Linked DNA regions of Homo sapiens. The protein of the gene in region 2 interacts with the protein of the main gene of each other region in a pairwise test. Each region holds a gene or a part of one and is shown on either strand. Other genes may lie near its edges.

What was found. Proteins that work in one complex are often made in the same cells at the same time.
Region 1: the proteins of DCTN2 (region 2) and ABI2 interact in binary tests that used the Homo sapiens proteins (3 or more experiments, as listed by UniProt).
Region 3: the proteins of DCTN2 (region 2) and RINT1 interact in binary tests that used the Homo sapiens proteins (3 or more experiments, as listed by UniProt).
Region 4: the proteins of DCTN2 (region 2) and VPS33A interact in binary tests that used the Homo sapiens proteins (3 or more experiments, as listed by UniProt).

The regions. Positions count from the first base shown.
Region 1 is NC_000002.12:203,334,894-203,338,803, reverse strand, and holds part of ABI2 (abl interactor 2), read right to left. Parts: intron 1-3,910. UniProt on the Homo sapiens protein: Regulator of actin cytoskeleton dynamics underlying cell motility and adhesion. Functions as a component of the WAVE complex, which activates actin nucleating machinery Arp2/3 to drive lamellipodia formation.
Region 2 is NC_000012.12:57,540,216-57,544,630, forward strand, and holds part of DCTN2 (dynactin subunit 2), read right to left. Parts: intron 2,776-4,415; exon of another isoform or gene 2,761-2,775; coding exon of another isoform or gene 2,731-2,760; intron 1,158-2,730; coding exon of another isoform or gene 1,149-1,157; intron 1-1,148. UniProt on the Homo sapiens protein: Part of the dynactin complex that activates the molecular motor dynein for ultra-processive transport along microtubules. In the dynactin soulder domain, binds the ACTR1A filament and acts as a molecular ruler to determine the length.
Region 3 is NC_000007.14:105,565,689-105,568,587, reverse strand, and holds the end of RINT1 (RAD50-interacting protein 1), read right to left. Parts: intron 2,266-2,899; exon of another isoform or gene 1,470-2,265; coding exon 1,277-1,469; 3' UTR 1,135-1,276; coding exon of another isoform or gene 1,098-1,134; 3' UTR 911-1,097; downstream 1-910. Other genes in the region: EFCAB10 (EF-hand calcium-binding domain-containing protein 10), read left to right, coding at 1,098-1,121. UniProt on the Homo sapiens protein: Involved in regulation of membrane traffic between the Golgi and the endoplasmic reticulum (ER); the function is proposed to depend on its association in the NRZ complex which is believed to play a role in SNARE assembly at the ER.
Region 4 is NC_000012.12:122,231,870-122,235,494, reverse strand, and holds part of VPS33A (vacuolar protein sorting-associated protein 33A), read left to right. Parts: intron 1-2,526; coding exon 2,527-2,695; intron 2,696-3,067; coding exon 3,068-3,249; 3' UTR 3,250-3,625.

The DNA.
Region 1 (3,910 bases), on a different chromosome or scaffold from region 2:
GATGTAGTCACTCTCATCTTTTCTTGCTTTTGTTGCCTGTGCTTTTGGTGTCATATTTATAAAAACCATTGTCAAGACCAGAATCAAGGAGCTTTTTCCCCTATGTTTTCTTCTAGGAGTGTATCAGTCCATTCTTATGATCGTATGAAGGAATACCTGAGGCTGGGTAATTTATAAAGAAAAGAGGTTTAATCGGCTCTTGGTTCTGCAGGCTTTACACAAAGCACAGTGCTGGCACGTACTTCTGGTGAGGTGTAATCATGGCAGAAGTGGAGCCAGCATGTCACATGGTGGGGGGGCTCCCAGACTAATTTTAAACAACCAGTTCTCACGTGAACCAAGCAAGAACTCACTTATCACTAAAGGGATGGTGCTACATCATTCATGAGGGATCTGCCCCCATAATCCAATTATCTCCCACCAAGACCCACCTCCAACACTGGGAATCACATTTCAACAAGAGATTTGAAGGGAACAAACATCTGACCCATACCAAAGAGTTTTATAATTTCAGATCTTACATTTAAGTCTTTAATCCATTTCTAGCTAATTTGTATGTGTGATATAACAATCAAATTTCATTCTTTTGCATGTGGATATAGTTTTCCCAATACCATTTACTGAATTATCCTTTCCCCATTGTGTACCTGGTGCCTTTATCAAAGCTTAGTTGACTGCACAGATGTGGCTACATTTCCGGGCTCCATTCTGTTCCATTAGTCTACATGTCTTTTATGCCAGTAACACACTGTTTTGATTACTATAGCTTTTTTTGAGACAGAGTCTCGCTCTGTTGCCCAGGATGGAGTGCAGTGGCATGATCTCAGCTCACTGCAACCTCCACTTCCTGGGTTCAAGCGATTCTCCCAACTCAGCCTCCTGAGTAGCTGGGACTACAGGCGTGTGCCAGCATGCCCTATAATTTTTGTATTTTTAGTAGAGATGAGGTTTCTCCACGCTGGCCAGGCTGGTCTTGAACTCCTGACCTCAGGTGATCTGGCTACCTAGGCCTCCCAAACTGCTGGGATAACAAGCATGAACCACCATGCCAGGCCTATAGCTTTGTAATATAGTTTGAAATCAGGAAGTATGATACCTCCAACTTTGTTCTTATTCAAAACTGCTTTGGCTATTCAAAGTATTTTGTGGTTTCCTATGAATTTTAGGGTTTTTCTATTTTTGTGAAAAATACCATTGGAATATTGATAGAGATTGCATTAAATCTGTAGATGGCTTTGTGTAGTATGGACATGTTAACAATATCAAATCTACCAATTCATGAGCACGGGATATCTTCCCATTTATTTGCATGTTCTTCAATTACTTTCATAAATGTCTTATAGTTTTTAGTGTACAGACCTTTCACCTCCTTGATTACATTTATTCCTAAGTATTCTATTCTTTCTGCTGTTATAAATGGAAATGTTTTCTTAATTTTTCAGATCGTTTGTAGTTAATATGTAGAAACACAACAGATTTTTGTATGTTGATCTTGTCTCCTACAACTTTACTAAATTCGTTAATTAATTCTAACAGTCTTTTGGTGGAGTCTTTAGGGTTTTGTATACATAAGGAATCATGTCATTTGCAAACAGAGACAATTTAACTTCTTCCAATTTTGATGCCTTTTGTTTATTTTTCTTTCCTAACTGGCTGGCTAGGACTTCTAGTACTTTGCAGTACTTGATTAAATAGAACTAGTGACACTGGGCACCACTGTCTTATTCCTGATCTTAGAGGAAAAGGTTTCAACTTTTCATGGTTGAGTATGATGTTAGTTGTAGGCTTGTCATATATGGCCTTTGAGACATCACTAACAAGAGAATAGCTAAAATTTTAAAACCTGACAAAACCAAATGCTGACAAAGATGAAGAACAACTGGATCTTTGCTGGTGGGAACGCAAAACGGTACCATCGTTTTTGGAAAAGAGTTTGGCAATTTGTATAAAACTAAACACACATTTACCATACGGTAATAATCCCACTATTAGATATTTATTGTCAAGGCAAAGAGAAGGCAATGTGATAGACCTGCCCAACTGCTTGTTAGGTTCAGAAAGCCTACCATTTACATGGAGGGCAGAAGGAATAGTAGTAAAAGATACAGCCCTTGTGTAAAGCAATACTAAAACAAAAGGAGCCAGGTGACTACAACATAGATATGACACTCTGTTGCGGAGGAGCCAATGCCATGCTGCAACTAAAGTCTTACAGCCTGCAGCTACTACCTAAAAGGGTACAATAGAGAGCCTCATCTCATGGGAACTAGGAGGTGATGAGGCACTGTTATCACGTACAGCCTCCTCGGCAGATGAAGAGATTGAGAAAGGGCTTCACATAAGGTCCTCGCAAACTTCCATAATCTTATATTCCAAGAGGATCACAAAGTGCTCGGCCAAGATTCAGATCAGATGCAGTTCAAGCACTGGCCTATGCAGCCTATGTGGATACATCCACTGTTACCAGGGTACAACAGTTGATCTTTTCCCTTAAATTTACCCAAAAGAGTGAAGACTTAGGTTGCACCAACACCTGTATACAAATGTTTACAGCCATATTCACCACTGCCTAAAACTAGAAACAATCCAGAAATCCATCAGTTGGTGAATGGATGAACAAATTATGATTCTTTCATACTCTAGAATATTACTCAGTAATAAGAAGGAACAAAGTACTGACAAAACACAATAACACTGATGATTTTCAAATGTATTAGGACTTCTAGTACCAAGAAGTCAAACACAAAAGGCTATATACTACATAATGCCCCTTATATGGCATTCTGGAAAAGGCAAAAACTAGAGGGACAGAAAATATATCAGTGTTTACCAAAGGCTAGTAGTGGAGGGACAGGACTGACTACAGAGGGTACAAGGAAAATTTTACATTGTGGTGGTTACATGACTATGTAAGTTTATTGTAATTCATAAACCTTTACACCTAAAAAGGGTGACTTGTACCATATATGTATTAAAACTCAATAAACCTGACTTTAAAAATCAAATGAGAAAAAATTCATGTTGTAAATGATTCAAAACAAAGCTGTTACCTCATCCAAATTTTCTACAAAGTATATTACTTAAGAAGAAAAAAGCAAAACTATGTTCCTTGCATGAATTATGCAAATATGAAAAGTACTGCAAAACTTTACAGAACATAAATGTCACCAAAAAATCAAATAGGAAAAAACTTGCAAGGTAAATTTACATGTAATTATATCCTACTTATAAAATAATTCAAGGCCAGGCATGGCGGCTGACAGGTGTAATCCCAGCACTTTGGGAAGCCAAGGCAGGAGAATTGCTTGAGCCCAGGTGTTCCAAGACCAGCCGGAGCAACATAGTGAGATCCCATTTCTAACAACAACAACAAAAAAAATTAGCTGGGCATGGTGGCACAAGCCTGTAGTCCCAGCTACTTTGGGAGCTGAAGTGTGAAGACTGTTTGAGCTTGGGAGTGCAAGCTGCAGTGACCCATAATCGTGCTACTACACTCCAGCCTGAGTGACAGAGTGAGACCCTGTCTCAAAAAATAAAATAAAATAAAGTAATAAAATAAAAATAATTCAGTGCATAGGCTCTTGCATATTCAAGTCTGTATTTCTTACATTCAGCAACTATTTAATGAGTGGCTAGTATATGGAGAACATCCTACGGCTAATGGGAAAATATAGAAATTTTTAAGAAATGACTCCATCTTCTAGGAGCTTCGTATCTGGAAGGAAACACAAAGTAAATGAAAAATCCAAAATAGAATGTGTTGCCCTACATGCTACCTCATGAATCCAATCTATTAACCAATCCCATAAAAATTCAACCATAAGCTATCAAAAGTCTACAACTAGGCCAGGCACGGTGGCTTACGCTGTAATCCCAGCACTTTGGGAGGCCGAGGCGGGCGGATCACCTA
Region 2 (4,415 bases):
CCAAGCTAAAACCAGCTTGGGAGAAACTCAAGGAGAGAAAGAAGACAATGGGCCATAAGCTCAATTTCAAACCATGCGGATTGGGCAGAATAGGGAGGACAGAAAATCAAATAAAAGGAAAAGTGGTATATTAGTTTGCAGATAGTATATACCACCTCCAGGTCTGTCCTATGGGTGGGTTGAAGGTTGATGAGATTTTAGGCATGATTCCTGCATAACCTGGAGTAGTACTAGTCACCTTGATTGGAAGATTTCAAGTGCCCTGGCCCCGGGTGCCAGCTTACCTAGTACGTGACTCCCAGTCTCTTTCACTAAGGGACTCCCAGACCCCCCAGGGCTGTTTGGCTAAGTGGCTGTGCCTCAGAGGGCAAGATCTGAGGTTCTAAATCAGACAGGGAAAGTGGCCACTGTTACTCTCTGAGCCTATTCAGGCTGTACGCCAACACTGCAGCCAGGGTACTTCAAAACCATGATGACAAGGAAGATGGACAGAGCTGTAGAGTAAAACTGTCCGGGATGGATCAATATATTGCTGACCATCCATCCATTTCAAAAGGAGGGGTGCAGAAACAGAAAGACTCACAAAAGCACAAATAATCCAAGTTATCTTACAATTGCATATAAACCTCCTTCTCATCCCATTTACATTTCTCTAAAGACCTAGCATAGGGGAATATTAAAATGAGTTTTTCCCAGAGATAATCCACATACAGCCAAGAACTGAGGACTGTGGCTGTCATCCCTTTTGTTTTCTATCCTTGTCTAGAATAGCTAAAAGTCATTCCATAAAAAAATCTTCATTTGATCTTAGTCTGAGGAGGAGAAAGGAAACTGCCTTCTAACTCCAGCCCCTAAATGCCTCATGTTCAAAAACATTTAAAGCCTCCATGCTTCTATCCCATCCTCCACTGGACAGTTTTACTCTGCAGACCTCACAAGGGGAAGAGACAATGATTCATGGATCATAGCTGTTTCTAACCCTTGATTAATGATCTTTAAACATAAGGCCAGCAGGCCCCTCAGTGACCCAGCCAGGGACTCACTGGAATTTAAAACGATTAGCTACAACAATAGCACAGTGGCAGAGCATTGCATGCGAGATGGCAGATGAAAAAAACATGCAGAGAAGAAGCATTGAATGGTCTTACTTGTGCAAACTAGTGTCCAGGCAAGGTGGTGAGGAGGGAGGATGGGGGAAGCATTAGGAAAAACTCAGGTAAGTTCAAGTGCGCCAACAGTCAATGAACACAATCAAGCATACTCCAGGATCTTCTAAACTGTAAGGAAGTACTGTTTCTCATCTCAGGAGTGTCCAGTAATATCTACCTTTTGGAGAAATGAAGCCTCTGCCAGGGCCCCATCAAACTATGGCTAGGTCATTTTTTCCCCTTTTACTGCGGGTAGTTATGCCATAAAGAGAGAAGCTAAATTGTTTCTAATGAGGTTTTTCTTAATTTACTTCCCTTATTCCAGCAGTTCAAAAGCCATGAGCAGAAAGCCTCACTGACCCAAGGCAGGCTGTGGGCCCAGGGGTTAGGGTCGGGGTGTGTGTGTGGGTGGAATTCTATTTGGGAATTAGTTTTCCAAACATTTTAAGAAAAATCTCCAAGCAAGCCTATTGCCCCAATTAACCTGGGAGTGTCTGAAGTGCAAAGAGATCTTCCCAGATTGAGGAGGAAAGGGCTACAGCCCGTGCACTTTCCTGGTCCATTCCTGTTTTAGAAGATTTTACTTCCTGCTAAAATTGTTTTAAAGGGATAGTAGAAAAATCAGGATTGGCCAGGCACAGTGGCTCATGCTTGTAATCCCAGCACTCTGGGAGGCCTAGGTGAGTGGATCACCTGAGGTCAGGGGTTTGAGACCAGCCTAGCCAACATGGTGAAACCCTGTCTCTACTAGAAATACAAAAAATTAGCCGGGTGTGGTGATGGACACCTGTAATTCCAGCTACTCAGGAGGCTGAGGCAGGAGAATCTCTTGAACTCGGGAGGTGGAGGTTACAGTGAGCTGAGATCACGCCATTGCACTCCAGCCTGGGCAAAAAGAGTGAAACTCCATCTTGAAAAAAAAAAAAATTCACGATCATCTGTAGCAAAATTTAAATCTTTTATGCTTTCCTCCCCCATCCTCCCCACTATGGGAATCGGAAAATGTTTATGTTTAAGTTAAATTAGCAATTTAAATCTTTAAGGGATGTTTGAGGACATTTTTCCTTTAGTAGCCCAATTTCTTCCACAGTGGAGGAATCACAGGAAGAAAGTTATGGAGCAGTGAGGGTCAACACAACTTGACTATTCCTTTAGACAGAAATCTGGAGACCCGGCTGGCATGGTAGCTCACGCCTGTAATCCCAGCACTTTGGGAGGCCAAGATGGATGGATCACTTGAGGCCAGGAGTTCGAGACCAACCTGGCCAACATGGTGAAACCCCATCTCTACTAAAAATACAGAAAATTAGCCAGGTGTGGTGGCACATGCCTGTAATTCCAGCTACTTGGGAGGCTGAGGCAGGAGAATCGCTTGAACCGGGGAGGCAAAGGTTGCAGTGAGACAAGATTGTGCCACTGCACTCCAGCCTGGGGGAAAGAGTGAGACTCTGTCTCAAAAACCAAAAAGAAATCTGGAGACCCCCTGAAAGGTTCCACAAGAGTCTATCCATATTGGTTGTCTCTAGGGAAGAGAACTGAGTGGTGGTAGGCAGAGGTGGGAGGCAGATTTTTCACTACTTACCCTTGAATCCTCTGTTCCCTGTGCATACATTACCTACTTTAAAAACTGATAAAATTAAAGTTGAAAATAAACTGAAGATTAAGGCGGAGAATGCTGTTGTCAGGGGTTAAGAAGGTGACTGAGGCTGGGCATGGTGGCTCACGTCTGTAATCCCAGCACTTTGGGAGGCCAAGACAGGCGGATCACGAGGTCAGGAGATCGAGACCATCCTGGCTAACACATGAAACCCCGTCTCTACTAAAAATACAAGAAAATTAGCCGGGTGTGGTGGTGGGCGCCTACAGTCTCAGCTACTCGGGAGGCTAAGGCAGGAGAATGGCGTGAACCCGGGAGGTGGAGCTCGCAGTGAGCCAAGATCACGCCACTGCACTCCAGCCTGGGCGACAGAGTGAGACTCCGTCTCAAAAAAAAAAGAAAAAAAAAGAAGGTGACTGAAAATCTCATGGTTCAGCCACAAGACAGGTCATGTGCACTGTCACTTGTACTAGGTCTTGGGCAGGTAGGCAGGAAACAGACAGGCTGCTGGTGAGATCCCAGGCCTCACGGACATGACATTTCTAGATTATCTAAGCATACAATTCACTGCTCCTCAAATTGCATATTTACGTCAGTATTAAAAGCAGTGGCAGAGCCATTACTCAGCTGACTTCCCAAAAGCTGCAAGCCCCATAGGGACATGCGGGGGCCAGAGACATTAGCTGACATCAGGAAACATCTTGGCTCTTCGGGCCCCTGAAGTGGCTGAAGGTCTGCCCACCCCATTCCTCCCTAGTGACAGAGAGTCACTTAGCTGAGCCTTAGGTGACAGAAACAATTCAGCTCTTCTTGTATTTGCCATTCAGCTCATATGCACTTCTATACTGGCATCCTGGGCAACATGCCACAGGAAATGAACACTCACAGTATCCTCTCCTCATCAGCCACCCCACTAGATGCTACTAAAATAGGCTGTTCAGGCTCTGGGGGAGAAACAGCCAATCAGAGCTGCACAGTCAGGTTCTTCCACACCTGGAATGGGTGTCATCTCCTTTTTATTAAGAGATATCCCAGTATCTTCAAAAGGGAATGACAATATGTATTTTTTTGTTTAGAAAGAGGATTACTGTGAAACTACCTGTTTGTATCACAGCGACAAAAGGACTGAGTTCTATTCATTATCTCACCATGAAGGGCAGAAGCCTAGGCCTAAGTTGAACAGTCTGAACTGTGGTAGTGCAGTAAAGTTCTCAGCATACAGCTGTCTCTTGGCAACTGTGGGAGACTGGTTCCAGGACCTCCCTTGATACCAAAATCTGCATATGTTCCCATCTTCTATATAAATTGGCATAGTAACTGCATATAACCTACCTACACCCTCCTGTATACTTTGAATCATCTCTAGATTACTTAAAATACCTAGTACAATGTAAATGCTATGTAAATAGTTGTTATATTGTATTTTTAAATTTTGTTTTTTTTTTTATTGTTGTACTGGTTTTTTTTTTTTTGAGATGGAGTCTTGCTCTGTCACCCAGGCTGGGGTGCAGTGGCGCAATCTCGGCTCACTGCAACCTCCACCTCCCAGGTTCAAGCAATTCTCCTGCCTCAGCCTCCACAGTAGCTGGGACTATAAGCGCTCGCCACCACGCCTTGCTAATTTTTATATTTTTTAGTAGAGACGGGGTCTCAAACTCCTGGCCTCAAAT
Region 3 (2,899 bases), on a different chromosome or scaffold from region 2:
AAACAGAAACATTTTGAGCTCAACACACTAGCTGGAAACTCTCTCTATAAAATACATACTAATAGAATCTATCTCAAAATATTTCCTCAAAATTATCACAAAGTAAATGTTTATCAGAAGCATAGGCTGCATGTTAGTCTGATAATTTTAGATTTTGAGATATTACAGGATTAAAAGTACTAACCCACTGCTAAGTCAGAGAAAAACCATTGGAATAAAATTTAATAGTTGTGGAAAGTTTCCAGGGAATCTAGCTCAATTTTTTAAAGAGTTTTACTCTGAGATTTTATTAGTCAAGTAACTATTATTGAATATACCCCAAGGACAAGGAAAAGTTACAAGAAAAAATAAACTTTTGAGACTTTTGTCTCATAAGTTACATAAATAATAAAAATGTTTAATTACATTCCCTACCACATGGGAATGTTTGAGTCAGAGTGCCATGGCCTGAAATGTTTCATCCAGAAAGAAAGGGTTGCCCACTGTCACACAGAATGAAACTAGGAAGCATTTAAAATAGAAGGGCATTTGTGAGAAATGAAGAACAATCCTATCTTATTCACCATCTCACAATGTGTTTTGTTTTGTTCTTTAGAGACAGGGTCTTGTTCGCTTGCCCAGGCTGCTGTGCCGTGTCACAATCAGAGCTCACTGTAGTCTTGACCTCCTGGGCTCAAGCTAGCCTCCCACCTCAGCCTCCCAAGTAGCTAGAACTACAGGCATGCATCAGGGTCTTGACATGTTGGCCAGGATGTTTTCGCACTCCTGCCTCAAGCAATCCTCCTACCTCAGCCTCCCAAAGTGCTGGGATTACAGGCATGAGACACTGTGCCCTGCCAGTTTCCTCATGGAAATACAGTTAATTCCCAAACTAGATACAGGTGCCTCAATTACAAATATGCATTCAAAGGGAGTTTTAAAAAAATTTATTGGCTATGTTTGATTATCCACAACAGAATTTCCCTTAATTAGCACAGGAAATTGAAAGTTGGTTATAATTTAATATCTCTGCTCGTCTTCAACAGACATACTCAGCATTTATACTTGTAAATAGAATTGAGTTTTCATTGTTTCGTTTTCTGTTTTTGTTTCCTTAGGAACAAGAGGATGAAGGAAATATGGTCAGCATTTTAATAACACCATAAATCCAAGATAATAAGTAATTCTATAAAGTTTTCCAGTTTCATTAATTCAGAATTTCATCATATAACTTGAAATCCAATTGGCTTCCTCTTTCTTAGAAACAAAAACCAAAGAAACCTTTTTCTGAAAGACATTATTTTCCAGTATTAGGCCAATTTGTCCTCAAATTAAGTAGAATCTCAACATCTTGTTGAGCCAGTTTGTAAATTCCAACTTCATTTAATGCTGCTGTGGCAGGAAGCTGCCCTGAAGCTGACTGCAGTACATCTTTCAGCAGTAGTGCAGAACCGACGTTCAAATTCAAAACAATACAGGCTTCTTTTATACTGTTTAGGGAAAACAAAGGAGGGAAATGAGATCTCCATTATCTGCATCAATTATATTACAATTTTGAGAATCCTAAACAGCTTCTCTGCACTGCTGGTCCACATGTTCTCTATAAAAATATTTATGGATTTATTATTTGGTTCTTTTAACATGGTAAGACTACACAGGTGCAGAGTTGCTATTTCTTTAGATTACTATAAGGTAATACGATCCCTATTTCAATATGTATCCGTTATTTCCCTAAATACAATACTTAATATTAACACTATATTAAATATAGCTATAACTTTAGGTAGATTAGAACATGGGAAAAGACAAAAATAAGAGATAAATGAAAGCAGCAGAAAGAACATTAAAATAAATTTTAAAAACAGTCCTATGAAACGTGTAAACATAAGCTTTCATTTTATAAGTCTAAAAGGAATGCTTTATAACCTCACAAAACCCAAACATAATTTAAATTTTACTTTTTTTTTTTGAGACATGGTCTTGCTCTGTCACCTAGGCTGGAGTGAAACTGCACGATCATAGCTCACTACAGCCTCAGCCTCTCAAGTAGCTAGGACTACAGGTCCACACCCCCACACCTGGCTTTTTTTTGTTTGTTCATTTTAATACTTTCTGTAGAGATGGAGTCTTGCTATGTTGCCCAGGCTGGTCTCAAACAGCTGGCCTCAAGCAATTCTCCCACCTCTGCCTCCCAAAGTACTGGGATTACAGATGTGGGCTACTATGCCTGGCCTATAAATTTTAGATCAACAAATTCTGAAACTATAATTATATTTAGAACCAAAATTAATGTCAAATGTTTAAGGAAACAAATTTCTTTCAGGCCTGGCCTATTAGGTATTAAACATATTTGTAATTTTTTTTTTTTTTTGAGACAGTCTTGGCTCACTGCAAGCTCCGCCTCCCGGGTTCACATCATTCTCCTGCCTCAGCCTCCCAAGCAGGTGGGACTACAGGTGCCCGCCACCAGGCCTGGCTAATTTTTTTTTTTTTGGTATTTTTAGTAGAGATGGGGGTATCACTATGTTAGCCAGGATGGTCTCGATCTCCTGACTTTGTGATCTGCCCAACTCAGCCTCCCGAAGTGTTGGGATTACAGGCGTGAGCCACCACGCCCGGCCCTGTAATTTCTTATATTTAGTGAATAGGGCACAACTGTACTTGTTTTCATTTTCTATTTATTCCTCCAGTAACTAAGCAACTAGAAGCATTAAACCAAATACTAGAAAACAAAACCCAACAGGTAATTTATATCTAGTTCTGAAACTTTTTGAGGTCATGGGTCACATCTATCATCTTGGTTTCCCCATTGTGCTGTAAGCATACAGTAGATAGACAATGTTTTAAAATTTCAACTGATCTTATCCCACCCAAACATCTCCAGAACCCTAAAGTTAAAAGGAGTTAGCCTCCTGTAACA
Region 4 (3,625 bases), about 65 Mb from region 2:
CTCAGGAGTTTGAGAACAGCCTGACTAACATGGGAAACCCCATCTCTACTAAAAATACAAAAATTAGCCCAGCATTGTGGTGCGTGCCTGTAATCCCATCTACTTGGGGGGCTGAGGCAGGAGAATTGCTTGAACCTGGGAGGCGGAGGTTGTAGTGAGCTCAGATCATGCCATTGCACTCCAGCCTGGGCGACAGAGCAAGACTCTGTCTCAAAAAAAAAAAAAAAAAAGTTATGGGGCAGGCTCGGTGGCTCATTCTTGTAATCCCAGTATATTGGGAGGCTGAAGGGTCAGATCGCTTGAGTCCAGGAGTTCGAGACCAGCCTGGGCAACATGGCAAAACCTTGTCTCTACAAAAAAAATGGCCAGTGGTAGTATGAGCCTTTAGTCCGAGGGGCTGTGGTTAGAGGATCACTGAGCCCAGGAGGCGGTTGCAGTGAACCATGTTTGTGCCACTGCACTCCAGGCTGGGCTACACAGTAAGACTCTGTCTCAAATAAATAAAGATGTGGGAAGAGTGGAGAGGCAGTGCAGTGGGGAGCCCTTGCCAGCCACGGCCTGAAGGACAAGGAGAGGGGGGTGTTCTAGAAACTTGTCTTAGAACCTGGAGAGAAGAGCTGTGGTGAGGCCATCTGGTGAGGTAAGGGGTGAGGGGCCTCTGGCTGAGGGTATGGTCAACCTCCAGCAGAGGAAGCTGGCCAGTGACAACGTCATCCTCACACTGCTGCCCACTCTCCAGTTCACTCTGGTGCTTTGTCTTGGTCAGACCCAAAGAGAAGGCATTGGAGTGTGTTGGTGTGGGACGCACAGGTCCATCTCCGGGCACAGAGCATTGCGGAGAAGGGTGGAGAGTGTCTAGAGGAGTCAGTGGAGATGTCCAGCACTCATAAACAAGCCAGCCATGGCCAGGCGCGGTGGCTCACACCTGTAATTCCAGCACTTTGGGAGGCCAAGGCAGGAGGATCACTTGAGGTCAGGAGTTCAAGACCAGCCTGGCCAACATGGTGAAACCCTGTCTCTACTAAAAAATACAAAAGTGATCAGGGCATGGTGGAGCATGCATCTGTAGGCCCAGCTACTGTACTCAGAAGGCTGAGGTGGGAGCCTCCCAGGAGGCTGAGCCTGGGAGGTTGAGGCTACAGTGAGCTGAGATTGCACTGCTGCACTCCAGCATGGGCGACAGAATGAGACCCTATCTCAAAAAGAAAAAGAAAAAGGGAAAAAAAAAGCTATGCAAAAGCAGGGCCATCAGGGCCAAGTGAGTTTCCTTCCACAGTTTCCCCTCAGAGGCAGCCACTGTGGCCAGTTTTTTATCTATCCTTCCAGAAAGATTCTGTGCATATACATTTTTACATAAAGAGTGCATATTCTCTACTGTTGGTCTCCAAAGTGGGGTGCACTTTGCTTTACATTTATTACTTATTCTAATGTTTCTAAATTTCAGTCTTTTTTGGTTTTTCATAAGGAACTTTATTAGGCCGCCTCTTGCAACAAAAGCTCATAACTAGACAGTCTCCTCTGTCAGGAGCAAAATTAAATGATTTTTTCCCGGTGGGAAAATAGAGACCCTTAATGTCTAGAGTCTATCATGTACATATTAGTTCAGCTGTCTTCACTGTTCTGACCTTTCTGACTCTGGACCCACCCACCACTTAACAAAGGATCTTGAAGGGTCTTCTGTGATCTTCCCCTTCTTTTTAATTTTTCTAAATTGCTACATAGTGGTTTTGAGGCTATACCTTATTTAATGATTTAACAGATTGCTATTGATAGAAATTCAGGTTGTTTCCAGTCTTTACTGTTACATGCAGTGTTGCAGTTAATACGTTTATACTTTGGTCTATTATCTTTTGTTCTGCAAGCACCTCTGTAGGATTAATGCCTAAAAGTAGAATTGCTAAGTTCAAAGGTTATTGCACATCATTGCTCAGCTAGGGAGTGCCAAGTTCCCCCCAATATGTTTCATGCTGGCTGGACGCGGTGGCTCAGGCCTGTAATCCCAACACTTTGGGAGGCCGAGGCAGGTGGATCACCTGAGGTCAGAAATTCAAGACCAGCCTGGCCAACATGGTGAAACCCTGTCTCTACTAAAAATACAACAATGAGCCAGGAGTGGTGGTGCACACCTGTAATCCCAGCTCTTTGGGAGCCTGAGGCAGGAGAATTGCTTGAACTAGGGAGGCGGAGGTTGCAGTGAGCTGAAATTATGCCACTGCACTCCAGCCTGGGTGACAGAGCCAGACTCTGTCTCAAAAAAAAAAAAAAAGTTTCATGCCAAACCAAATAATTCTTCATCTTCTGTACCTAGAGCTGCTTTGAGTGGCTTTTCAAGATTTCAGTCAAAATTGAAGCTCTGGCTGCTAAAAATTGAGCCCAGCTAGGGTGGATTAGAACAAGGCATGGCAGGGGTGGGGGTTGTATATCTTTAAATCCAAATCAAATAATTTTGGATTACCCAAAAGGCCACAGTCAGGTAGCTCTAAGTCTCTGTATCTATAGGGTTTTTGTTCTTTAATTATCTCACAGAACCCCACGGACATATCGTATGTGTACAGTGGGTATGCCCCGCTCAGTGTGCGGCTGGCCCAGCTGCTTTCCCGGCCTGGCTGGCGGAGCATCGAGGAGGTCCTCCGCATCCTCCCAGGGCCCCACTTTGAGGAGCGGCAGCCACTGCCCACAGGACTGCAGAAGAAACGTAAGTCCCAGTCCAGCATCTACAGATAATTATGTACTGTTAGTGTGGTTTTCAGGTATTGTACAGTTGCTTTGTAAAATAGTAAAGCACTTAGGAGTCAGAATTAAATACACCTCTTTTGTTCGTTGCTAATGTATGTAGTAAGAACTCGAATCGGATTATTCCCTGAGGGATAGCAGCTTTCAACTTCTGTGTTGAGAATCTCAGAAGTTAAAAAAAAATGTTGAGATCAAAATCAGTATTCTTAGGTTTCAGATGAACTGTCTGGATGAAGGCACTTGTTTATTCTTATGAATGATAAAATGTTTGAAGAGGTGGGAAGAGAAGCATTAATAATAAATAGTTTTTAATTCTGAAATGTTTAAATTTTAGGTCAACCGGGAGAAAACCGAGTGACTCTGATATTTTTCCTTGGGGGCGTAACCTTCGCTGAAATTGCTGCCCTGCGATTTCTCTCCCAGTTGGAAGATGGAGGTACAGAATATGTCATTGCCACCACTAAACTAATGAATGGAACCAGTTGGATAGAGGCTCTGATGGAAAAACCTTTCTAGGATGTTCAGAGGAGACTTAACAAGTGTACTGCAGAATAAACTACCTCTTTGAAGAAATTGCTGAAAGGAAGTAAAACCCCATAGAAGAAACATGGGAATACAGAATATATTCTGGGGTCAGCTTCTTAAATTATACTACTGTTTACTGCTTTCTCCGTCTCTTTTGTATTCCCTTTTTTTTTTTCCTTTGAGACGGAGTCTTGCTCTGTCACCCAGACTAGAGTGCAGTGGCACGGTCTCACCTCACTGCAACCTCCACCTCCTAGGTTCAAGCAATTCTCCTGCCTCAGCCTCCTGAGTAGCTGGGACTACAGGCATGCACCACCACACCCGGCTAATTTTTGTATTTTTAGTAGCCATGGTGTTTCACCATGTT